Linked DNA regions of Homo sapiens: regions 1 and 2 are each linked to region 3. The links come from fine-mapping of genetic effects on gene expression. A gene starts in region 3. Each other region holds a variant in brackets. All regions are shown on one strand. Distances are from middle to middle. Region 1 has its middle 42 kb from the start of TRH. Region 2 has its middle 24 kb from the start of CNBP. Region 3 holds the start of RAB43 (RAB43, member RAS oncogene family).

What was found.
Region 1: its variant is fine-mapped to the expression of RAB43 in coronary artery (GTEx, PIP above 0.99).
Region 2: its variant is fine-mapped to the expression of RAB43 in whole blood (INTERVAL, PIP above 0.99).

The regions. Positions count from the first base shown.
Region 1 is chr3:130,012,742-130,020,920 of GRCh38, reverse strand. It overlaps the pseudogene VPS51P10. Among named protein-coding and RNA genes, the nearest start is that of TRH, 42 kb to the right of the region's middle. The variant A/G (reference allele first, on the strand shown) is at 4,781.
Region 2 is chr3:129,203,713-129,211,891 of GRCh38, reverse strand. No RefSeq gene overlaps it. Among named protein-coding and RNA genes, the nearest start is that of CNBP, 24 kb to the right of the region's middle. The variant T/AT (reference allele first, on the strand shown) is at 3,689.
Region 3 is chr3:129,117,150-129,125,328 of GRCh38, reverse strand. RAB43 (RAB43, member RAS oncogene family) reads left to right here and starts at 3,525. Exons shown (of 3, transcript NM_198490.3): 1 at 3,525-4,043. The coding sequence starts at 3,840. All of the region lies in intron 11 of ISY1-RAB43 (ISY1-RAB43 readthrough), which reads left to right. RefSeq lists silencers at 3,296-3,515, 3,536-3,715 and an enhancer at 4,496-5,441.

The sequences.
Region 1 (8,179 bases), 900 kb before region 3:
GTCTCAATACCCGAGATTCTGATTTCCTTGTACCTGTGTGAGTATGTGGATTTTTTTTCTTTTAAAGCACCAGAGGTGGTTCCAATGACAAAGTTTTTAGAGGCATCAAGCTCCAATGAGTAAGAACAGAAATTAATTGTAATATGATTTCTTCAAATATTATCTTCAAATGCATTGTCCATCAACACCATACAAATGTTTATTATGCTGTTTTTTCTTACCATTTCGCATTTTCTATTTCTTTCTTCCTTTTCCTTTTTTTTTTTTTTTGAGTCAGAGTTTCACTCTTGTTGCCCAGGCTGGAGTTCAATGGCACGGTCTCGGCTCACTGCAACCTCTGCCTCCCATATTCAAGCAATTCTCCTGTCTCAGCCTTCCAAGTAGCTGGGATTACAGGCATGCGCTACCATGCCTGGCTAATTTTTTTTTTTTTTTTTTTTTTGTATTGTTAAGAGAGAGACAGTGTTTCTCCATTTTGGTGAGGCTGGTCTTGAACTCCCGACCTCAGGTGATCCGCCCGCTTCCGCCTCCCAAAGTGCTGGGATTACAGGCATGAACGACCGCGCCCAGACACCACTTAGCATTTACATTTTACATTTGTTAAAGTTATAGATTTATACACACATTGATTGCTGCTTTGTTATACACTTGCATATACATAAGATGGGAAATAGAAAAGAATAAAATGGGCACAGTATCCCTGAAGTTTCACATTCTGAGACATTTTAAAAATATTTGCTCTTCAGAAATTTGTTTCAATTAAGAAACTGTGGTATACACACCCGGTGAAGTATGATTCAGCCTAAAAAGGAAGAAACTCCTCTCCGCTGCGGACAAAATGGATGAGATTGCAAGTATGTATATTAAATGAAATAAGCCCAGCACTGAATGACAAATATTTCACATCCTCACTTCTATGTAGAAAGAAAAAAGGAAACCTTGGCCAGGTGTGGTGGCTCAGACCTGTAATCCCAGCACTGTGGGAGGCCGAGTCGCACGGATCACTTGAGTCCAGGAGTTCGAGACCCGCCTGGCCAACATGATGAAACTCCGTCTCTACGGAAAACACAAACAATGAGCCGGGCGTGGTGACGCGTGCCTGTAGTCTCAGCTACTCGGAGAGCTGAGGCCCAAGAAGCGCTTGAACTCGGGAGGCGGAGCTTGCAGTGAGCCCGGATTGTGCCTGTGTACTCCAACCTGGGCAACAGAAAGAGACTCCATCACACACCTACACACAAAAGGAATCTCAGGAAGGTGGAAACTATAAAGGTGATTAGCAGATGCTAGGAAGCAAAGGGGTGGAATCCGGAATGAAGACAAGTGGATAATTGGGTCCCAAAATACTGAAAGATGGAATAAGTGAGTTCTAGTGTTTGATAGTACAGTATGAAAATTTTAGTTCACAAAAATTGCTTGCATATTTCCAGATGCTTTGGTAAGAAGCTTCCTAACTTTCTCATTATACTGGTTTTTAAGCTCTTCTCTTTCTGCTACTGAAATGATGCTGGCTTTTTGATTTTGTTTTTTGTTTTGAGATGGAGTTTCGCTCTTGTTGCCCAGGCTGGAGTGTCACGGTGCAATCTTGGCTCATCGCAACCTCTGCCTCCTGGGTTCAAGCGATTCTCCTGCCTCCACCTCCCGAGTAGCTGGGATTACACGCATGCAGCAGCACGCCCAGCTAATGTTGTATTTCTAGTAGAGACGGGGGTTTCTCCCTGTTGGTCAGGCTGTTCTTCAACTCCTGACCTCAGGTGATCTGCCCGCCTCGGCCTCCCAAAGTGCTGGGATTACAGGCGTGAGTGACCGCGCCCGGCCCATGCTGTATCCTGATCTGTTGTCTCTTGCTGTTTGTTTGTTTTGGAGCCCGGAAATAACTTCTCACCTATATGTTCAAATGGTTTTTCACATGAGTGCTAAGAAAGCTCATTGGTGGAAAGCAGCCTTTTCAAGAAATGGTGTTGGAGAAACTTGATTTCCATAAGCACAAGACTGAAGGTGGACCCTATGTCACACCAGGTGCAAAAATTAACGCAAACTGGATCAAAGACCTCACCCTAAGCGCCAAAAGTATCATACGCCTAAAAGAAAAGATTGGCCACAATTTCATGACATCAGATTGGGCAATGTTCTCTGGGATATGACACCAAAAGCATAGGCAACAAAATTAGATTCCTTGGATTACATCTAAATGACAGACCCTTTTGTGCAGCAAAAAACACTGTGAACTGAGTGAAACGATAACCCAAGGATTAGGAACAATATTTGCAAAGCATATATCTGAAAAGAGGCTGATATCCATCGTATATGAAGAACAGCTAGAACTAAACCACAAGAAACCCAAAGCATCCCATCAACAATGGCCAGAAGACTCGAGTAGATGTGTCCCTAAAGAAGATATAGCAATGGCCAATAAGCATCTAAAATGATGTTCAAAATCACTCATCATAGGGAAGCGCAAATCAAACCAATCATGTGATACCACACATTAGAATGGATATGATAAACAAACAGGCATTGGTGAGACTAGAGGGAAGTAGGAATGCTCAAATGTGATTTGAGGGAATGTAAAACCGTGAAGGAACGGGGAAAATAGTATGGTGTGTGCTTGAAAAATTAGAAACAGAATGATCAGATGTTCCCGCAGTTGCATTTGTGGGTACCTACCAAAAAGAATTAGAAGCCAGGAGTGGAAGACAGATTTGTGTACACCCATATTCATAGCAGCATTATTCACAACAGCCAAAATGTGGAAGCAATTCAAGGGTTCGTGGACAGATGAATGAAAAAGCACACTGCAGTTCCTTCATACAATGGAAGACTATTCAGCCTTAAAAAAGCAGGCACTTCTGGCCGGTGCGGTGGCTCACACCTGTAATCGCAGCGTCTTGGAAGACCGAGGTGGGCGGATCACCTGAGGTCAGGAATTCAAGACCAGCCTGGCCATCTTGGTGAAACCCTGTCTCTACTCAAAATGCAAAAAATGAGACGAGCGTGGTGGCGTGTGCCTATAGTCCCAACTACTCAGGAGGCTGAGGCACAGGAATGGCTGGAACCCGGGAGGCGGAGGTTACAGTGAGCCCAGATTGTGCCACTGCACTCCAGCCTGTGCGACAGAGTGAGATTCCATGGAAACACAAAACAAAACAAAGTCAAACGAACAAAGAAAAAACTAACAAACAAAAAAAAAAAAAACAGAGAGGCACTTCTGACGCAGGCTGCAACATGGATGAACCTTGAAAACATTATCGTCAGTGAAATAAATAAATCCCAAAAGGATAAACACTCCCAGGCTCAGTGGCTCGCACCTGTAACCCCAGCACTTTGGGAGGCTGAGCCAGGCGGATCACTTCAGGTCAGGAGTTCGAGACCAGCCTGGCCAATATGGGCTCTATTAAAAATACAAAAATTAGCTGGGCGTGGTGGCGCACAGCTGTAATCCCAGCTACTCGGGAGACTGAGACACAAGAATCGCTTGAACCCATGATGTGGAGGCTGCAGTGAGGTGACATCACGCCACTGCACTCCAGCCGGGGTGACAGAGAAAGACTCTGTTTCCAAAACAAAAAAATTAAACACGGTATGATTCCACTTATCTATCAAGTGTCTAGAGTAGTTAAATTCATAGAGTTGCAAACTAGAAAGGTGGCCCCTAGGGGCGGGCGAGAGAGAGGAGTGGAGAGCTTGGTGAATGGGTGCAATTTCCATTTTGAAAGATAAAACTGTTCCAGAGACGATGATGGTGATGGTTGCTAAACAATGTGAACGTACTTCATGTCATGAAACTGTAAAGTGAAAAAGCATGGAAACTGTAAAGGTTTATACTGGCCATTCTATATGAACTAATATATATTTATAATTTTTAATATTTATACGAGGTATATTTTCCCATAATAAAAGATGAAAATTAAAGCAGTTGGATGTTTAAAAAGAAAAGAAAGAAGCGAAGAATACACACCAGCTTTCTCCTGATTAGAGGAAGAGCCCCAAAGCTTCTATGGACACTCACTTTTCTCTTCTTCTTCTTGCATTATTATGAGGAAATCCTTAGAGGTTGGGGAAGTTGGGTGACTTTGGCTAATAAGGAGCTCTGTGCCTTGAGCCCCCCAGGCCACAAAATAGTAAATAGTCAGTCTGTGCCTCCAGCCCTGTAGTGTGAGGTTCCAGTCCTGTGGGCTCCACTCCCGTCACCTGTATCAAGAGGCTCACGTCTCACCCTGTCTTCTTGCCAGCCTTGAGGATGGAGTCTGAGCCTCCATGTTGCACCACACAGGGAGGACAGTGGACCTGTTCTCCATGGTCATGGCCCAGCAGAGGGGAAGGGCAGTTCAGTGAGTGTAGGGAAAAGAAAGAGAGATCAGACTCTTACTGTGTCTATGTAGAAAGGAAAGACATAAGAGACTCCATTTTGAGAAAGACCTGTACTTTCAACAATTGCTTTGCTGAGATGTTGTTAATGTGTAGCTTTGCCCCAGCCACTTTGACCCAACCTGAAGCTCACAAAAACATGTGTTGTATGAAATCAAGGTTTAAGGGATCTAGGGCTGTGCAGGACGTGCCTTGTTAACAAGATGTTTCCAAGCAGTATACTTGGTAAAAGTCATCGCCATTGTCTAGTCTCAATAAACCAGGGGCACAATACACTGTGGAAAGCCGCAGAGACCACTTCCCTTGAAAGCGGCATATTGTCCAAGGTTTCTCCCCATGTGATAGTCTGAAAAGTGGCCTCATGGGAGGAGAAAGACCTGACCGTCCCCGAGCCCAACACCAGTAAAGGGTCTGT[A/G]CTGAGGTGGATTAGTCAAAGAGGAAAGCCTCTTGCAGTTGAGAGAGGAAGGCCGCTGTCTTCTGCCTGCCCCTGGGAACTGAATGTCTCGGTATAAAACCCAATTGTACATTTGTTCAATTCTGAGATGGGGGAAAAACCGCCCTATGGTGGGAGGTGAGACATGTTGGCAGCAATGCTGCCTTGTTATTCTTTAGTCCGCTGAGATGTTTGGGTGGAGAGAAACATAAATCTGGCTTACGTACACGTCCAGTCATAGAACCTTCCCGTGAACTTCATGATGACATAGATTCTATTGCTCACATCTTCGTTGCTGACCTTCTCCTTATTATCACCCTGACTCCTACTACATTCCTTTTTGCTAAAATAATAAAAATAATAATCAATAAAAACTGAGGGAACTCAGAGGCCAGTGCCGGTGCAGGTCCTTGGTATGCTGAGCGCCGGTCCCCTAGGCCCACTGTTGTGTCTCTACACTTTGTCTCTGTGTCTTACTTTTTTTCTCAGTCTCTCATCCCACCTGACTAGAAATACCCACAGGTGTGGAGGGACAGGCCACCCCTTCAAGTGAGTGCTGAGGGACGGTCGGGAACCTTGTTTGTTTCCTCATCCTTAGGACGTACTGGAGACTGCGGTGGGCAGATGTGAGGAGAGCAATATGCAAACTCTGTGCTCAGCATACTGGAATTTCTGTTCTTGGTTGTGGTGGGGGTCTCAGAAATCTTATTCAAAATTTTGCTTTCCTCCCCCACTGGTTGTCCTTTTTATAGACATCTCACCCATGATAGCAGGGAATCAGTCCCTCTAAACTATTCCCTAAGAACAAAAAAGAGATTATGAAGGTGATGAGGATAAAGAGGATGACGACAGACACCATGGCATCATGAACCCTTACTGAGGGCTTACTGAAGGCCTGGCTCTGAGCTCTGTGCTCTATGCAGCTTGTTTCATTTCATCTGCATAGTCTCCATGTTATTAGTTCACATTTCATGATGATTTTACAGACTAGAAAAGGAGCAACGGATTTTCATGTAGCTTGTACCAGATCACGAAGTCAGAAAGGGTGAAGTCCAATTTGAACCAGGCAGTCTAAGTCCAGACACATGGCATTTGGCCAGTCCTCTCCCTGCATCCAACCTGCCCTCTCAAATCCTTGTCACTCAGGCCGATGCCCCTGCTCACTCTGCTCTTCCCTTTGGAGGTTCATTGTAGACCACAGCTAGACCAGTGGGTGCCACAATCACTGTGTCATGTTTAGAAGGGGCAGCTGAGATCACATCGAGGATTCCAGAAGGAATTGGCACAGGATCATTCGGGACGCATATCTCCCTTGTCCCTGTTCCTGGCTTTCCTTACAGTTCTTGACTTCCTCAAAGGAGTCATCAATTCAGCGTTTGGCTTCCATTCCTATTGAGGAATCTGGAAAGTGTTTCAAAAATGCTCCTCCGATGTGCCTGTGGTTAAGACCTCTGAGCTCTGCTTAAATCGTTTGGAAGCTGGGCGCGGTGGCTCACACGTGTAATCCCAGACTTTTGAGAGGCTGAGGCAGGCGAATCACAAGGTCAGGAATTCGAGACCAGCCTGGCCAACATGGTGAAACCCTGTCTCTACTAAAAATACAAAAAAAAGAAGAAAATTAGCCAGGCACGGTGGCGTATGCCTGTAATCCCAGCTACTGGGGAGGCTGAGGCAGGAGACTCCTTTGAAGCCGGGAGACAGAGGTTGCAGTGAACCGAGATCACGCCACTGCACTCCAGCCTGGGCAACACAGCAAGACTCTGTCTTAAAAAAATAAATAAATAAAAATTATGAAACAATGTGCTTGGATGGGCTTGGCAAACTTTAGCCATTAGCTCACGTACCACTTTGGAAGGGCATACCTTCAGTCACTTCGCCCTTTAATCCCTTTGCTCAAGACTAAAGTTCTGAGAGGAAGTCTAATCGGCTGAGTTGTGTCCATGTGGGCAGTGCAGGAAAGGGTGCAGCGGGAGGCGGCTCCAGGGATGTTTTTGGCTTCCATCATGGGGGAGCAGACGCCTGGATTATCCACCCTAACACATCTGGACAAAGGAAAATGAGGTTCTCTGAGGAAGGAGACATAGAGCCCAAGGAGCTAACTAAGAGACAAACAGTCATCCTGTCTTGTCACTTTCTTTTACACACGTGTGTACATTATCTTACACTTATCACTTTGTTTTCTTTCTCTCCTTTAATTGTACCCTGCTGCCAAAAGTTAAAATAAAATGAAAGTATTGAGATAGCTCGGTAACTGACTTTTGGTCAATTGCCTTTTCATATAGTGAACAGCTGCCCAAATCACACTGACAGAGACAGTGATTGTCTCTGTCTCTGTGCAAATTTGCAAGCGTTTGCATGATCACTCCCAATCCCCCAACACAGGGCTGTGTTACAGCACAATTTAGTTCAGTGTTTTGCTCTCTGCAACAGGGAGGTTCTCATCCATTACAGGTTGCAGTAAAAACAGGGGTACCATAAGCAACCACCTCTTTCCTCAACGATATGATGAAAGCAAAAGCCAAGTAGCTCCATGTATCCAACTTAAAAAAAAAAATTACGCCCGTGGGCTGCAGTTAGAGCTATGGCGGCGGCAGCTGTCACTGGGCCTAGCCCGGGGTGTGGACCTGGGGACTCCGCAGAAGGCCCCGGTGGGGAGGTTCACGGAGCGTCGGCGGAAGGCGCACAGGATGCTAAAGCTTTACAACGGCCTCTCAGAATGGGAGGCGGTGGGACTCCCCGCTGGGCCCGACCCCCTGGACCCCACTGATCTGAATGGGGCACACTTCGACCCGGAAGTTTAACTAGACAAGCTGCCTAGAGAGTGCCCTCTGGCCCAGCTGATGGACAGTGAGACGGACATGGTGCAGCAGATCCGGGCTCTAGACAGCGACATGCAAACCCTGGTCTATGAGAACTACGATAAGTTCATCCCAGCCACAGAAATTGACAAACAGCATAAAACTCTATGAGGAACTGCAGGAGACCCAGAATTTCCCAAATAACCTTGTAGAAGAGGAACAAAGTTGGAAGACTCACAAAAAAAAATATACATATATATATAAAGTTGTGTTTTCATTCAGTTGTAAATGTTTAGTAATTTCTATTGTAATTTTTCATTTAACTCATGAAAGGATATTTTTAATTTTCCAAATGTATGCTTGTGTTTAGCTATCTTCTTGCTGTTGACTTCTAATTTTGTTGCATTATGGTCAGGAAAATCTGGTCTGGACAATGTCAATAGTATAGTGGATTTTGTTGAGACTTCTTTATGGCCTAATATGTGGCCAGTTGTTTTTCTTTTTTTGGTTTTTTTTTTTTGTTTTTTTCTTTTTACAAATTTGCCACATGTGGTTAAAAGGAATGTGGATTATTTGTTTTTTT
Region 2 (8,179 bases), 87 kb before region 3:
CTTTGGACTCAGGCCAAGAGCAGCCTAGAAGCTGCACCGGAAGGATCCGAGGAGGCAACTGGTGGGAAGAGAGGGCTGCAGAGGCCGAGTGGAGCCAGCATGGGGCCTCCCTGCCAGTCATGGGGCTGTGGAGTTTTCATTCTGCAAAGCTACAGAGCCACTGAAGGGCTGGTTGGTTTGTTTTCTTTCTTATTTTGGTGGCCAAATGTATATAACAAAATTTGCCATTTTAATCATTTTTAGGCAGCAATTCAGTGACATTAATTATATTATTGTGCAACTATCACTGATAACTATTTCCAAAACTTCTCCATCACCACAAACAGAAACTCTGTACCCATTAAGCAATAACTCCCACTTTCTGTCTCTATGAATTTGTCCCCTTTTATTTATTTTTTTAAGACAGGGTCTTGCTTAGTCGACTACCCAGGCTGGAATGCAGTGGTGCCATCATAGTTCACTGCAGCCTCAAATTCCCTGGATTTTGCCTATTACAGATGTTTCTTATAACTGGAATCATACAATATTTGTCCTTTTGTGCCTGGCACATTTAACCTAGAAATGTTTTTAAGATTCATCCGTGTTGGCTGGGCGCGGTGGCTCACGCCTGTAATCCCAGCACTTTGGGAGGCTGAGGCGGGCGGATCACAAGCTCAGGAGATCGAGACCATCCCGGCTAACACAGTGAAACCCTGTCTCTACTAAAAATACAAAAAAAAAATAGCCAGGCGTGGTGGTGGGCGCCTGTAGTCCCAGCTACTCGGGAGGCTGACGCAGGAGAATGGCGTGAACCCGGGAGGCGGAGCGTGCAGTGAGCCGAGATCGTGCTACTGCACTCCAGCCAAAAAAAAAAAAAAAAAAGATTCATCCGTGTTGTACCTACCATGTATCAGAATTTCATTCCTTTTGGTTTTTGGTGGGGCTGAATATATCATGCTTTTTTTTTTTTTTTTTTTGAGACAGAGTCTAGCTCTGTCGCCCAGGCTGGAGTGCAGTGGCGCAATCTTGGCTCACTGCAGCCTCTGCCTCCCGGGTTCAAGTGATTCTCCTGCCTCAGCCTCCTGAGTAGCTGGGACTACAGGCGCCCACCACCACGCTCGGCTAATTTTTGTATTTTTAGTACAGATGGGGTTTCACCATGTTGGCCAGGATGGTCTCGGTCTCCTGACCTCCTGATCCGCCCACCTCGGCCTTCCAAAGTGCTGGGATTACAAGTGTGAGCCACCACAGCCAGCCAATATCATGCTTTTGTTTGTTTTTATTGTGGTAAAACATACATAACTTAGAATTTATCATTTTAACCATTTTTACATGTAAAATTCAGTGGCATTAAGTGCATTCACATTGTTGTGAGCCATCACAACTCTCCATTTCCGGAATTTTTCATCTTCCCAAACTGATACTCTGTACTCATTAAACACTAACTCCCCATTCTTTCTCACCCCAGCCACTGGCAACCAGTACTTTCTGTCTCAAGGAATTAGACTATTCCGCATACCTCATATAAGTGAAATCTCATTTGTCCATATGTAGTTGGTTTATTTCACTTAGCATACAATTCTCAAAGTTTACCCCTGTTGCAGCATGTGTCAGAATCTCATTCCTTTTCAAGGCTGGATAATATCTCATTGTGTGTGCAATAATACTCCATTCTGCATTTTGTTTATCCATTAATCCATTGTTGGATGTTTGGGTTACTTGTGCCTTTCAGCTATTGTAAATGATGCTGGTATGATGACTGGTATACACAAAACCGTTAAAATCCTTGCTTTTGATTCCTTGCAATATATACGTAGAAATGAAATTGCTGGATCATATGGCGGTTTGGTTTAAATTTTTAAGGACTCATCAAACTGTTTTCCAGAGAGACCCACCAGCAATGCATGAGGGTTCCAATTCGTCCACATTCTTGCCACCACTTGTTATTTCCTATTTTCGTTCCATTTTAAGGCCAAGTAATCTTCCATTGAAGAGTATATACCGTGTTTTGTGTACCTGTTCATCTATTGATGAACATGAGTTGTTTCTGCCTTTTGGCTGTTGTGAACAATGCTAATGCTTCAATGACCATTGGTGTTTGTGTCCCTGTGTTTAATTCTTTGGGGTATACACCTAGGAGTAGAATTGCTGGGTCATATGGTAAGTCTATGTTTAACTTTTTGTTTTGTTCTGTTTTGTTTTTGAGACAGAGTCTCGCTCTGTCGCCCAGGCTGGAGTGCAGTGGTATGATCTCGGCTCACTGCAACCTCTGCCTCCCAGGTTCAAGCGATTCTCCTGCTTCAGCCTCTCGAGTAGCTGGGATTACAGGCACCCACCACCACGCCCAGCTAACTTTTGTAAATTTAGTAGAGACGGGGTTTCACCATATTGGCCAGGCTGGTCTCAAACTCCTGACCTCAAGTGATCCACCCGCCTCGGCCTCCCAAAGTGTTGGGATTACAGGCATTAGCCACTGCGCCTGGCCTGGTTGGATTGTTTTCTAGAGACACCAGCAGTTATTTCTTTGACTTCGGTTTGATTAACTGATGACTAGAAGAGGTGATAAAATTACTGTACTTAGAAAATATTATATGAAATATATCTATATAGGAGGGCTGGGTGCGGTGGTTCACACCTGTAATCCCAGCACTTTGGGAGGCTGAGGTGGGCAATCACTTGAGGTCAGGAATTCAAATCTCTACTAAAAATACAAAAATTAGCCAGACGTGATGACGGGAGCCTGTAATCCCAGCTACTCAGGAGGCTGAGGCAAGAGAATAGCTTGAACCCAGGAAGCGGAGGTTGCAGTGAACGGAGATCGTGCCATTGCACTCTAGCCTGGGTGACAAGAGTGAAATTCTGTCTCAAAATAAAATAAAATAAAAATAAAAACAAAGCTTAGCTAGGCATGGTGGCGGATGCCTGTAGTACCAGCTATTTGGGAGGCTGAGGCAGGAGAATTGCCTGAACCCGGGAGGCAGAGGTTGCGGTGAGCAGAGATCGCGCCAATGCACTCCAGGCTGGGTGACAAGAGCGAAATTCCATCTCAAAGAAAATAAAATAGGCTGGGCACAGTGGCTTACACCTGTAATCCTAACATTTTGGGAGGCCGAGGCGGGCAGATTGCCTGATCTCAGGAGTTCGAGACCAGCCTGGGCAACATGGTGAAACCCTGTTTCTACTAAAATAAAAAAATAAAAAAATAAAATTAGCCAGGCATGGTGGCGTGCGCCTGTAGTCCCACCTACTCGGGAGGCTGAGGCAGGAGAATTGCTTGAACCAGGAGGCAGAGGTTGCAGTGAGCCGAGATCGTGCCACTGCACTCCAGCCTGGCAACAGAGTGAGACTCCGTCTCAAAAAAAAAAATAAATAAATAAAATAAAATAAAAATAAAAACAAAAATTAGCTGGCCAGGCACGGTGGCTCACACCTGTAATCCCAACACTTTGGGGGGCCAAGGCGGGCAGATCACCTGAGGTCAGGAGTTTGAGACCAACCTGGCCAACATGGAGGAACCCTGTCTCTACCAAAAATACAAAAATTGGCCAGGCGTGGTGGCATGCGCCTGTAGTCCCAGCTACTCAGGAGGCTGAGGCAGGAGAATCGCTTGGACCCGGGAGGTGGAGGTTGCAGTGAGCCGAGGTCGCGCCACTGCACTCCAGCCTGGGTGACAGAGGGAGACTCCGTCTCAAAAAAAAAAAAAAAAAAA[T/AT]TAGCTAAGCGTGGTGACAGACGCCTGCAGTCCCAACTACTTGGGAGGCTGAGGCAGGATAATTGCCTGAACCCAGAAGGCGGAGGTTGCAGTGAGCCGAGATCACGCCACTGCACTCCATCCAGCCTGGGCAACAGAGCGAGACTCCATCTCAAAAAAAAAAAAAAAAAATATATATATATATATAGAGAGAGAGAGAGAGTAGAATATTAAAGTATAAGAAAAAAACATAAAATATTTTATGTATTGCTAGTTTCATATAGACTACAAATGTCCTTGAATCAATTAATGCATTCCTTTTATAAAGATTTATATAATGCTATAAAATCCATGATTTATATTTACTTGGCTTGTCCTAGGCTGGGACAGCCTGAGATATTTTGTACGTGGACTCTGCCAACTCATTTGTGTTTATTTCTCAGAAAGACAGTTCCAGAACACAAGCTGATTATCTGAAAGCCTGCTGGATAAAGTAAAATATTTAAAAGCAAACAATGTTTATAGTTGCTCTGATTCAGCACAATTTAGATTCTGTTTTGGCAAAGAAAACTTAACGTTCTGCTACTTCTCAGCCACCATCAATAGGGAGAGCTTCAAGCCCCTTATCCAAGTGACCATCCTTGCAAAGGCAGCCTCTGGAGACAGTGGCTGGCAGCCAGCGTGGACAGGCCTCTCAGGCTGCATCGTGCCTTTATGTCACTTTGGCACATTTGTTTGCAAAATCAGGGCTGACTTGTGTTGTTTTAATTTGAAGCGAAATGAAGGGATAAGAATTCAACTAGAGACTTAAAAAGGAAATAAATTCTGAGCATGAGCTACAACATGGGTGAACCTTGAGGACATCATGCTAAGTGAATAAGCCAGTCACAAAAGGAAAATACTGTATGGTTCTACTTACATGAGGGCCCTAGAGTAGTCAAATTCATAAAGACAGAAGGCAGAATGACAGTTGCTAGGGGGTGGGGGAAGGGAAAATGGGGAGTTAGTGTTTCATGGGGACAGAGTTTCAGTTGAGGAAGACAAAAAAGTTCTGAGATGGATGGTGGTGACGGTTGCCCAACAATGTGAATGTACTTAGTGCCACCGGACTCTTCACTTAAAGTGGTAAATTTTATGTTATGTGTATATATATATACACACACACACACACATATATATATATACGTATATATATGTATATGTATGTGTGTGTGTATATATATATATATATATATATATATATTTTTTTTTTTTTTTTTTGAGATGGAGTCTCACTCTGTCGCCCAGGCTGGAGTGCATTGGCGCCATCTCTGCTCACTGCAAGCTCCGCCTCGCGGGTTCACGCCATTCTCCTGCCTCAGCCTCTCCGAGTAGCTGGGACTACAGGTGCCTGCCACCACGCCCGGCTAATTTTTTTGTATTTTCAGTAGAGACGGGGTTTCACCTTGGTCTCGATCTCCTGACCTCGTGATCCGCCCACCTCAGCCTCCTAAAGTGCTGGGATTACAAGCGTGAGCCACCGCGCCCGGCCATTATGTATATTTTACCACAATAAAACATTCAGATAGAGAATCCACTCCAAAGCTGCAGAAGGCCTTGGCTTGTAAAACAGAAATCTGCTAGCCAAGCATGGTGGTATATACCTGTAGTCCTAGCCACTTGGGAAGCTGAGATGGGAGAATCGCTTGAACCCAAGAGTTCAAGGTTTCAGTGAGCTAGGATTGTGCCACTGCACTCCAGCCTGGGCAACAGAGGGAGACCCTGTCTCTAAAACAGCAACAACAAAAACAACCAGAAATCTGTTTAGTCTTCCTTTAATGAACACTGACCCTTTTAAAAAAATCAACTTAAAATGTAGTGAGGTGGGCAGGGCACAGTGGCTCACGTCTGTAATCCTAGCACTTAGGGAGGCTCAGGCTGGGGGATCACTTGAGGTTAGGAGTTTAAGACAAGCCTGGCCAACATGGTGAAACCCCTTCTTTACAAAAACACAAAAATTAGTTGGGCATGGTGGTACATGCCTGTAGTCCCAGCTACTCAGGAGGCTGAGGCAGGAGAATTGCTTGAACCCAGGAGGTGGAGGTTGCAGTGAGCTGAGATCATGCCACTGCACTCCAGCCTGGGCAACAAAGTGAGACTTGGTCTCAAAAAAAAAAAAAAAAAGTGGTGAGGTGGAGACTTAGAAATTAAAAAAAAAAAATCCTTCCAGATTAAAGTTCTAAGTCAGACTCGGTGTCAGATGCAGTGGGCGCAGGGGGTCAGTATCCAGGGCCATCATTCTGCCACGTACACAATGTGGCCAGGCTGATGACAGGCTCAGCCTGCCTTTGTACACTTGTCCCTTTCAATTTAACAAATGGCTGTAAGCACCTACTCTAGGCCAGCACTAGGGAGACAGAAAATACTTGTGACCCAGTCCTGTCCTAGGAGCAGCCATCCTGGTGGGGAAGCCCCCATGTGTTTCTGTAGAACCTTTCAGCCCAGTACATAGCATACCTGATGGAGTGGGGGCGGGGCTCTGCCAGGGCATCTCCTCCTGAGGGTGTGTGGGTCACTGCCTGCAAAGACTGTGACCCAAGGATGCGTGGTTCACCTGGGAGTTGGCAGGAACGGCAAGCACAAGAGTGGTCCAGGCAGAGTATGTGCAGGGCATGAAGGCAGGAAACTCCCAAAAACTCTCCACAGCCCATGTGGCTGCAGGGAGAGGCAAACCTAGACCACAGAGGCCCACATGGCTTTAGCGTGTCCTGGTGTCATAGAATACTCTGCTTGTATGGTAGGCTCTTGTCATTTGTAGGCTGAAGCAGTCTTAGTTTGGCCTGTTCTCTGGTGACCCTGAAGGTCCAGGACAGTGTTACTTGGTCATTCTGCTAAGGCATAGAGTTGGGCTTTTCTTGGCTGAGAGCGGGAGAACTTTGTTGTTGCCATTGTTTGCTTACCTCACTACGTGGCATTCTCCCGTTGGCAGTGTTTGTGTGTTTATGTTTTGGCAAAGCTCTCTCTAAACACAGCCCTGGTAAAGTAAACTCCATAAGGCTGGGCACAGTGGCTCACACCTATCATCCCAGCATTTTGGGAGGCCAAGGTGGGTGGATTGCTTGAAGCCAGGAGTTCGAGACCAGCCTGGGCAACATAGGGAGACCCTATCTTTACAAAAAATACAGAAATTAGCTGGGACTCACACCTGTGGTCCCAGCTACTGGGGAGGCTGAGGTGGGAGGATCATTTGAGCTTGGGAGGCAGAGGTTGCAGTGAGCCGAGATCATGCCACTGCACTCCAGTCTGGGCAACAGAGAGAGACCCTGTGTCAAAAACAACAACAACAACAACAACTCCATAAGCCAGATGATCCTCTGTGTCATCTGCAGTGCCTGGAACATGCCTGTCACACAGTAGGTTCTCAATAAATGTTTGCTGAGTGTACTTTTTTTTTTTGCAACCCTATTAACTGAAGAATGAATTATTGAATCATTTGCCAGAGTTCTACTGCATTTGGTTCTGTATTCTTCTCTATTGGAGTGTAGCCCGTGGGCAGGGACAGTGTCTCTTTAGTAGGAGCCAAGAATTAAATGAATCCTGTTAAATTACCATGTTACTTATAAGCAAATGCAGGTTCAGGGCTGATGCAGAAACAGAATTTTTGCTAATGTGATTTTGGCTATATGTTTTTTACATTCATTTACATACCAAAATTCGGGTAATATCTACTTTTTAATTCTAAATTTATTCAGTTATTTAGTTTATTTACTTAGTTTTTCTAAAGTTTCAACTAATTAAAATTTCCTAGCTTTATTTTATGATTTTGATCAGAATTTGTATATTATTCCTACCTATTCAAACTGTGTATAAAACCGTATAAAACAGCTTTTCACATGAAGAAATATGATGTCTATTTTAATGCCTCTTTTGTTTTTTGTATAATATAGGTACAGGGGGAATGAAACTAATAATTATTCAGTGGCCAGTAAATACTAGGCTTGAGCTGGGCACTTTTACATATGCAATCTCATTTCATTTAAGCCTCACAAAGTCATGTGAAGATGATCTATGTTTTGGAGACAAGAAAACTGAGCTCACAGAGGTTGAAGAACTTGCTCCAAGATAAAGTCCTGATTCAAACCCTGTTCTGACTGTTTTCAAAATGTATGTTTTTTTGGTATTTCTATAGCACTCAGTAATGGTTATTGGACTGTAAGCAACAGAAATTGTGCATTTAAGGTATGAGGACACTCTGGGCACAGTGGCTCCTGCCTGTAGTCCCAACTACTCAGGAGGCTGAGGCAGGAAGATTACCTGACTCCTGGAGTTTAGGGCTGTAGTGAGCCATGACTGTACCACTGCATTCCAGCCTGGGCAACAGAGCAAGATCCCATCTCTAAATAAATTAACAAAAATTTAAATATAAAGCAACTATTATCAATATGTTAAAGGTTACAACAGACATAATGAATGAAAAGATTAGTTATTGCTGGAGAGAAATGGAAACTTAAAAGTAGCCAGGCTGGGCATGGT
Region 3 (8,179 bases):
GTCAGGAGATTGAGACCATCCTGGCTAACACAGTGAAACCCCGTCTCTACTAAAAATATAAAAAATTAGCCAGGCATGGTGGCTGGAGCCTGTAGTCCCAGCTACTCAGGAGGCTGAGGCAGGAGAATGGTGTGAACCCGGGAGGCGGAGGTTGCAGTGTGCAGAGATCGCGCCACTGCACTCCAGCCTGGGCAACAGAGTGAGACTGTGTCTCAAAAATAAAATAAAATAAATATGTTTCTTGGCCGGGCATGGTGGCTCATGCCTGTAATCCCAGCACTTTGGGAGGCCGAGGTGGGCGGGTCACCTGAGGTCAGGAGTTCAAGACCAGCCTGGCCAACACAGCAAAACACTGTCTCTACTAAAAATACGAAAATTAGTTGGGTGTGGTGGCACACGCCTGTAATCCCAGTTACTGGGGAGGCTGAGGCAGGAGAATTGCTTGAGGTTGCAGTGAGCCAAGATCAGGCCATTGCACTCCATCCTGGGCAACAAGAGTGAAACTCTGTCTCAAAAAAAAAGTTAAATTCTTGACCAATTTTTTTTTCTTTCTTTCTTTTTTTTTTTTTTTTTTGAGACAGAGTCTCGCTCTGTCGCCCAGGCTGGAGTGCAGTGGCATCATGTTGGCTCACTGCAAGCTCCACCTCCTGGGTTCACGCCATTCTCCTGCCTCAGCCTCTGAGTAGCTGGGACTACAGGCGCCGGCCAACACACCCGGCTAATTTTTTGTATTTTTAGTAGAGACGGAGTTTCACCATGTTAGCCAGGGTGGTCACGATCTCCTGACCTCGTGATCCGCCCATCTTAGCCTCCCAAAGTGCTGGGATTACAGGCGTGAGCCACCGTGCCCGGCAACTAAATTCTTGACCTATTTTAAAAATTTTGCAATATAGGCCGGGTGCGGTGGTTCACGACTGTAATCTCAGCACTTTGGGAGGCCGAGGTGGGTGGATCATGAGGTCAGGAGATCGAGACCATCCTGGCTAACACGGTGAAACCCCGTCTCTACTAAAAATACAAAAAATTAGCTGGGCATGGTGGCGGGCGCCTGTAGTCCCAGCTACTCGGGAGGCTGAGGCGGGAGAATGGCGTGAATCCGGGAGGCGGAGCTTGCAGTGAGCCGAGATCGCGCCACTGTACTCCAGCCTGGGTGACAGAGCGAGACTCCGTCTCAAAAAAAAAAAAAGTGCAATATACATTTTTTCAAATTTGGTGTATTAAATGAAACATAAATATTTTTTAATTGCTGCATTTCAAATTAGCATGATTCCATTTCAAATAAAATGCCACTGTGCTACTCAGGAATTTACCACCAAAAGAGGAAATGCAGATATTAGACAGCTTTATTGAGGTATAATTTACATACCATAAAACCCACAGGTTGTAAGTTTACATTTTAATGATTTTAATAAACTTGAGGAGTTGTGCAACCCTTACCACAGTCCAATTTTAGAATCACCCCGCAAAGGCAAGGGAGTGGTGCCTGGGTTTTCTGACAAAATCTATACTCAGACCAACATGTCCCCTGCCCCAGCCCAACCAGTTCCAGGCTAGAGCAGTGGAAAGGCCAGTTAGCTATCCAACCACCGTCTACCCCTACGCTTCATCCTGGCTCCTGGATTCCACACCATTTTGTGCTGTGGTAGCTGCTCTGAGCTGGGGGCAGGCCTTGTTTTCTGGAGTTCTGGACTTTGACCTGAGCTAGTCCCAGCATGCAGAAACCTTCCATCCCATCTCCTGTCTACTTCTACCCTGGAGTGGAGGTTATTTCCTGCCTCTCTAACTCTCCGCTCCCATCAGGTGTACCAAAGTGGGGCTCTCAATTGCTTTTCAGTGGCACTTTGGGGTTTCCTGTCTGATTCTGTTGGGTATTTCCCATGGGAGTGGAGTTCAAACTTTCAGAAGAAACAACTCTTCTGCCTTCTCCACGGGGTCTGCCTTTGCAGACTGCTCATTCAGTCCCTTTCTATCTTGACCTGAAAGGTTGGCTGGGGTCCTCACAGTGGCACTGGGGGACTTGCTCTCTGCGAAGTCTCCTTCAGCTTGAAGACTTTCCCCTTTTCTCCTGGATTTTTGTCTGCTTTGTCCACAGGTGCATTACAAGGCCCCAGGACAATGCCCGCCTGTAGTAGCCATTCATTAAATATGTTGAATACCTGGAATTGGAGTGCCACAAGGAAGCTGTCTAGAGGGGTAAGGGGTGCTGTCAATTCCTTCCCATCTTCGGAGCTGGGAAGCCCAGTCCTGTTGGATCTAGTATAAGCTTCTTACAGATGTTTGGGTCTCCTTTCTCTGAGGCGCCCTGGTTCACTGGGCCAACTCAGGAGTTGGTCTGCCCTTCCTCAGAAATCCCTTCAAGTTTTTCTGTTCCTCTTCCTAGACTGGTGCTTTTTGGCTGGGTCAGTTTCCCAAATGGGCCTGTAGCTGCTCTGAGCTGGGTCATCCAGCCGTTTAGCAGCTGCTTCAACCACTGCTAGGCTGCCTTTTGGAGACAAGAGCTCCCAGCTCCTCCTTCTGGCCTAGCTTCCCATCAAATGGGGCCCTGGGTCCTCTCCTCACAAGGATTTTGGGCTCCTCCGCAGTTTTGTAGCCAGCCTGGATTCTGGCCTTCTGCAGCCTGCTCCCTCCCTTCCCTTCCGCCCCTGGGAAGAGCGACCCCCACCACTCTCGGAGACTGCACTGCCCGCCTGTCAGAGTGGGCACTCAGGTGACACTGCTGTGGTCGTCCCCTTCCTCCGTGATCCATTCCGGAGGGGGTCATTCTTAGTCTAGGCCTGCAGGCCCGGAGCTCCAGCCATGGTCTCCGCCTGTCCCTGACCGGCGGTCTGGGAGGCAGCAGGTAGGGGATCCCGGGCAGGCGGACCAGGCCTGGGTGGGGGGCGAGCAGGAGGCGCGGGACAGCACCTGGGGGTCCCAGCTGATGAAGGGTCGGGGTGGGCAGCGGTTTGGGGGCCAGACGGATCCGCGGTGTGGGCGCGCCGGGGTGTTGATGGAGGAGGGGCCGAGGTGCTGAGGGCGGGGTCGGGCTGGGGTCGGGGCTGAGGGCGGAGTCGGGTGGGGCGGAGTCAGAGCTGAGGTGAGCCTGAGGGCGGAGTCGGGGCGGGCTGAGGTGGGCCTGTGGGCGGAGTCGGGGCGGTGTGCTGAGGTGGGCCTGAGGGCGGAGTCGAGGTCGGGCTGAAGGCGGAGTCGGGGAGGGCTGAGGTGGGCCTGAAGGCAGAGTCGAGGTCGGAGCTGGGGACGGAGTCGAGTTCGGGCTGAGGGCGGAGTCGGGGCGGGCTGAGGTGGTCCTGTGGGCGGAGTCGAGGTCGGGCTGAGGGCAGAGTCGGGTCGGAGTCGGGGCGCGCTGAGGTGGGCCTGGGGGCGGAGTCGAGGTCGGAGCTGAGGGCGGAGTCGGGGGCGGGGACGTAGGCGGAACCCGGGTCGGGCTGAGGTGGGCCCGAGGGTTGGGCTGGGGGCGGAGTGGGTGCCAGCCTGAGGGCGGAGCCGGGGGCGGGCGGGGGCGGGCTGGGGCGGGCCTACAGGCCAGACTGGTGTGGCACGGAGCTGAGGACCGGCCGGAGCTTTGCGGAGGGCCCGGCTTGGCGGGTCCGGGGGGGAGCCGAACCCGCGGGGCACCGGGTCCGGGCGGGGCCGAGCCGGGCCGGGGCGGGAGCCAGCCGGGGTGGGGCGGGGCCGAGGCCGAGGCAGGCGGTCGGCAGTGCTGGGGGTTCAGGTGTTGCGGCGGCTCCACGTAGCCAGGCGGCCCGTGGGCTGGAGCGGGCGGAGCTCGGCCCGCGGCTTGCGTGAGCTCAGGCCGGTCCCAGCGTCCAGAGCGCCGGCCCTTCGGCTTCTTCTAGGCCATGGCAGGGCCGGGCCCAGGCCCGGGGGACCCGGACGAGCAGTACGATTTCCTGTTCAAGCTGGTGCTGGTGGGCGACGCAAGCGTGGGCAAGACGTGCGTGGTGCAGCGCTTCAAGACCGGCGCCTTCTCGGAGCGCCAGGGAAGCACCATCGGCGTCGACTTCACCATGAAGACGCTGGAGATCCAGGGCAAGCGGGTCAAGGTGGGAGGCCGGCCAGGGCCCCTGGAAGGCGCTCCCTCGGAGGGTGGGGCGGGGGCAGCGGAGCCCCTGGCCGCGGCGAGCGCACCCCGCGTCCATCTGAAGTTTCCTTTGGCTTCCCCTTTTTCCTTCCTCGGGTCGGAGCAGGCCTGGGCCCCGGGGTCTGGGCCGGGTTCAAGTCCTCAAAGCGCCGGCCGTGGGTTGCTGGGGGGGGGGGGGGCGAGGGAGTGTGGAGGAGGCGGCCCTGCCCTCCGGAGCTCACACCCTAGGAGGGGACTGTGCTCCAAAATAACTTTAGCCATTGGAAGGCAGGGGGTTAGACTCCCCTGTTCCAGGTACTAGCGGAGCGCCTTGGAGTGCGGAGATCAGACCCCCCACCTCCATCCACCGCGATGGCAGCCCCCAGCTCAGCCCACCGGCGGGGCACTCAGCCAGAGAACTGCATCCCCACCCCAGGACTAGGAGCGATCAGGAAGTAGTTGCTTTTAGGACCAGAGGGCCAAAACTTTTTGTCAGAATTTCCGGCCTGGCCACGCCTCCCTGCAGTCTCTTTGTGGACCTGGTGGTGGAACTTTACTCGACTAGGGCCAGCCCCGGTTCCCTCCCCCAGCTGGAGTTTGATAGAAACTGAAAACTTCACAGATACCGGAAGGTGGGGGAGAGAACCAAGCTTTGGCAATGGCTCCGAATAAAAACAGCAGGATGTGGTTGCCACAATGTCCTGGCAGTGGTTTGATAAATATTTGTGATGAATGAAATCAGAGTTTCTTAACCTAGGTGTTAGTACTCCCTAATCAACCAGGAGATCCTGGGCTGAAGGCACTCAGTAACTTTTCTGAACCGCACTGTACAGAAATCTTTGCTTGCTTTCATGGTTTCGAGCCCCCATGATCTTCAGGACACCCTCAGGGCACAGGGCTGGGACGATCTCTGCCAGGGAGATGGGAGTCACTGGAGCCTTGCTGCTGCTGGGCTCTGCCTCTCCGGGTGGCTCTAGGCCTGCTCCTTGTTGCCTTTGGCTAGGATATGTAGCTCTTTGTCTTTGTTTCTATAAAATTGGGATAATTTCTGGGTGTTGCCTCCCTCCTGCCCCAAGGTGGAGAAAAAAGTAAGTCAACAGTCTTTATGTGTCCACAGTGCCTCTCAGTAGATGTGACGGGGAAGCAGAAACTCCTGCCTGAGGGGTTTTATTATTATTATATTTTAATCGTCTTCTGGGGTCTGTGTTTTGGTCTCCGTGGATGGAAAAGAGCAAGGTGCAGAAGGCAGCTTTGAGTCACTCGGGACCACCCTTTTGGAGCAGGTAGCCAGGGAAGGGCTGGAGTGGGTGGAGTGTCCGTTATTGAGTGTGCCCAGTGATGATGCCAGCAGCTGCAGGGAAATGGGAGTGTGAAAATACAGGCTAAAGAGCAGTGGTGTCCTCCTCATGTGCTATCGGTCTGTGTCTGGAGTGTCTGTGGTGGCCCAGTGCTGACGGTGGTCAGGGAGGGGGCAGGGTTCCTGTTTACCTGTTGAGATAACAGACTGTGTCCCAGCAGAGCTCCTGGTTTACTGCGCACGGGTTATGCAATGCAGGGCCAGGCAGTTCGTTATTTTCTTTCCTTATGGTTGCCTCCAGATTGTCCTTCCTAGGAAGCAGCCCGGGGCCCAGGGAGCAGAAGAGCTGTGTAGCTGTGGTAAACACCTCTCCAAGTTATAGCCGCTGACCTTCTTGAGAGGCTGTTGGGAATCAGCTGGGTTACAGGTGCATTCTCTGCTGACTGGAGGGAATTCTTACCCCCGCTCACACAGGATGGAGCCTGGGCACACAGCTAAGAAGTGATAGAGGTGGGAATATTTTTCCCAGTTTTTCTGACTCCAAAGCAGATTTCTCCCCCATAGTGGACAGCTTTTCAGAATCCCGTTGTCTGTGGTGGGGAAGCCTCTGGCAATTGTTTACCACCTCATTTTGCCGGCAGGAAAACCTGAAGTCTAACTCACTGCAGAGGCTCCAAATTAAAGCTGGGCAGCCGTGAACTTGAGGGAACACTGTCCTTCGAGTCAGGCTTCCTGGGGTCCGCTGCCGCAGCAGGAGCAAGCCATTTTCCCTCCTCCATCTGTAAAGTGCCTCTGAGTAGTCTTTTGGCAATGTGATTTTAAGTCAAGTTTTTTGAGGTCTAATTTACACACGGTAAACCTTCACCACTTGAGGTGTTACAGGTCTATGAACTTCTCAAACTTACACAGACAAGCAGCCACATCACTATCAAGATGGAGAATTTTTCCACCAACCCAGAAAGTTCTTTTGTTCTTCTGTAGTCAGTTCCTTTCACCTCATCCTGTGGCAACCCCCGATCTGTTTTTTGTCTCTGTAGTTTCAGCAGTGTGATTTTAACTGAAAGCCTTGATGAACCAGAGCTTATTGTTGTTTTTTCTGTGGAAAGCAAGTGCACATCAGGGATTCAGTGTAAAACCTTTCCAGGGGCCGGGTGCAGTGGCTCATGCCTGCAATCCCAGCACTTTGGGAGGCCGAGGCAGGAAGATTGCTGGATGTCAAGAGTTCGAGATGAGCCTGGCCAGCATAGTGAGACGTGGTATCTATTTAGAATAAAATAAAATAAACCTTCTCAGGGCCTGTCTTGGGAAGCCCGAGATGCTTGTCCAGCAAGCATCCAGTCTTATATCCTAAAGCTTTCCCTGTGATTCTTTACAATGATGCTGGGTTTTATTAGAGCTTCAGGAAGCTTAGAGATGGATCACCTGGTGGTTTTCTAGCTCCTGTGAGCTTGGAGGTACTGAAAGGTAAGGAGAAAAGCCAAGAGGTCAGAGAGAGGGTCAGAAGGGCTTTAACTAGCTTCCCAACCAGTCAGAGCAATACCTTTATCTAGTTGTAGGTTGAAATTCTTGTTATTTGACTAAAGAATTCTCCTGCTAAAAAAACCGAAACATTTGAGAATCACAGATTTAATCAAATTACTTTATTTCTGTAGCCACTTCCCATTACAACCAGAATAACCTCCAAACACCTTCCCCAAAGAGATGGACCTCTGGAAGGAGACAAAGTTGGAGAGGCAGACAGAGGCCCATCTCTACCCTTCACTGCCTGCTCTCCAGCTTCACTAGCCCTTCAACATGGTGGGCTTACCCCTGCCTCAGGACCTTTGCATCTCTTCCCGTGCCCATCATACTCTGCCTCTAGATCCCCACGTAACTGCTACTTCATCATTCAGGTCCCAACGCAAATGCCACATCTTCAGAGAGGCCTTGCCTGATCTCCCAGGTCCTCTATTCTGTAACTCTATTGTATCTGGTCATAACACTTACCACAGCTTCAAATTAACTGTTTTTTTCTGTCTGCCCCTATAGAAGGTAAGCTCCTTGAAGACACAGGGATCCAGTGGGCCAGTGTCAAACACATGGTGTCCAATATGTGCCTGTTAATTGGTTCCTTTATAGAGAGAAAGCTGAGGCCAAGGTCACTTACAACTCTGTGGCAAAACCAAGGGTTTGGCTGGCTCCTAAGCCCAGTCTTCATTTTTACTTGACCACCCTTCTGATTTGCTCTGAGTTCATAAAGATGACCGTGAGATTCTGAAAGTGAATGGATCTAATAAAAATGCAGTTGTGGCCATTGCATTCACTGAGAGAAGAATGTGGAATGGGGCATTTTAGAAAGATTGGGGTTGACAGTTAAAGAGTTTTAGGGTGTTTGGTTTATTATTAACCAAAACGTGTAGATATACCCAAACGGCTCAGAGACACTGCTGTACGAGTCAGTAAGGCTTTGTATATGGTGATCATTTCCAGTGTTCTTGTGGATGCATTTGACTGTAGCTATGAGAACTGGACTTATAAAGTGAATCTGAGTGCTGCTTATCTTGCATACTGTGGAGTCTCTGACAGAGAGCACTGGACTAGGAGTCTGAAGTTCTGAGTCTTGCTTCAACCCTGCCACAGACTTGGGCAATTCATTTTTTTTCTCCTTGGAGCCTCAGGCTTCCTCATCTGTGAAATGGGACTAATGGTCTTTGCTCTGCCTCTTTCTTAGGGTTGTCAGAAAACTTTGAACATGCTTAAAATAAAGTTTCCATGACTTACTTTTGAATAGATAAACCATTCACATGGTTCAAATTTCAAAATTTTAAAAACTTCAAAGGGTA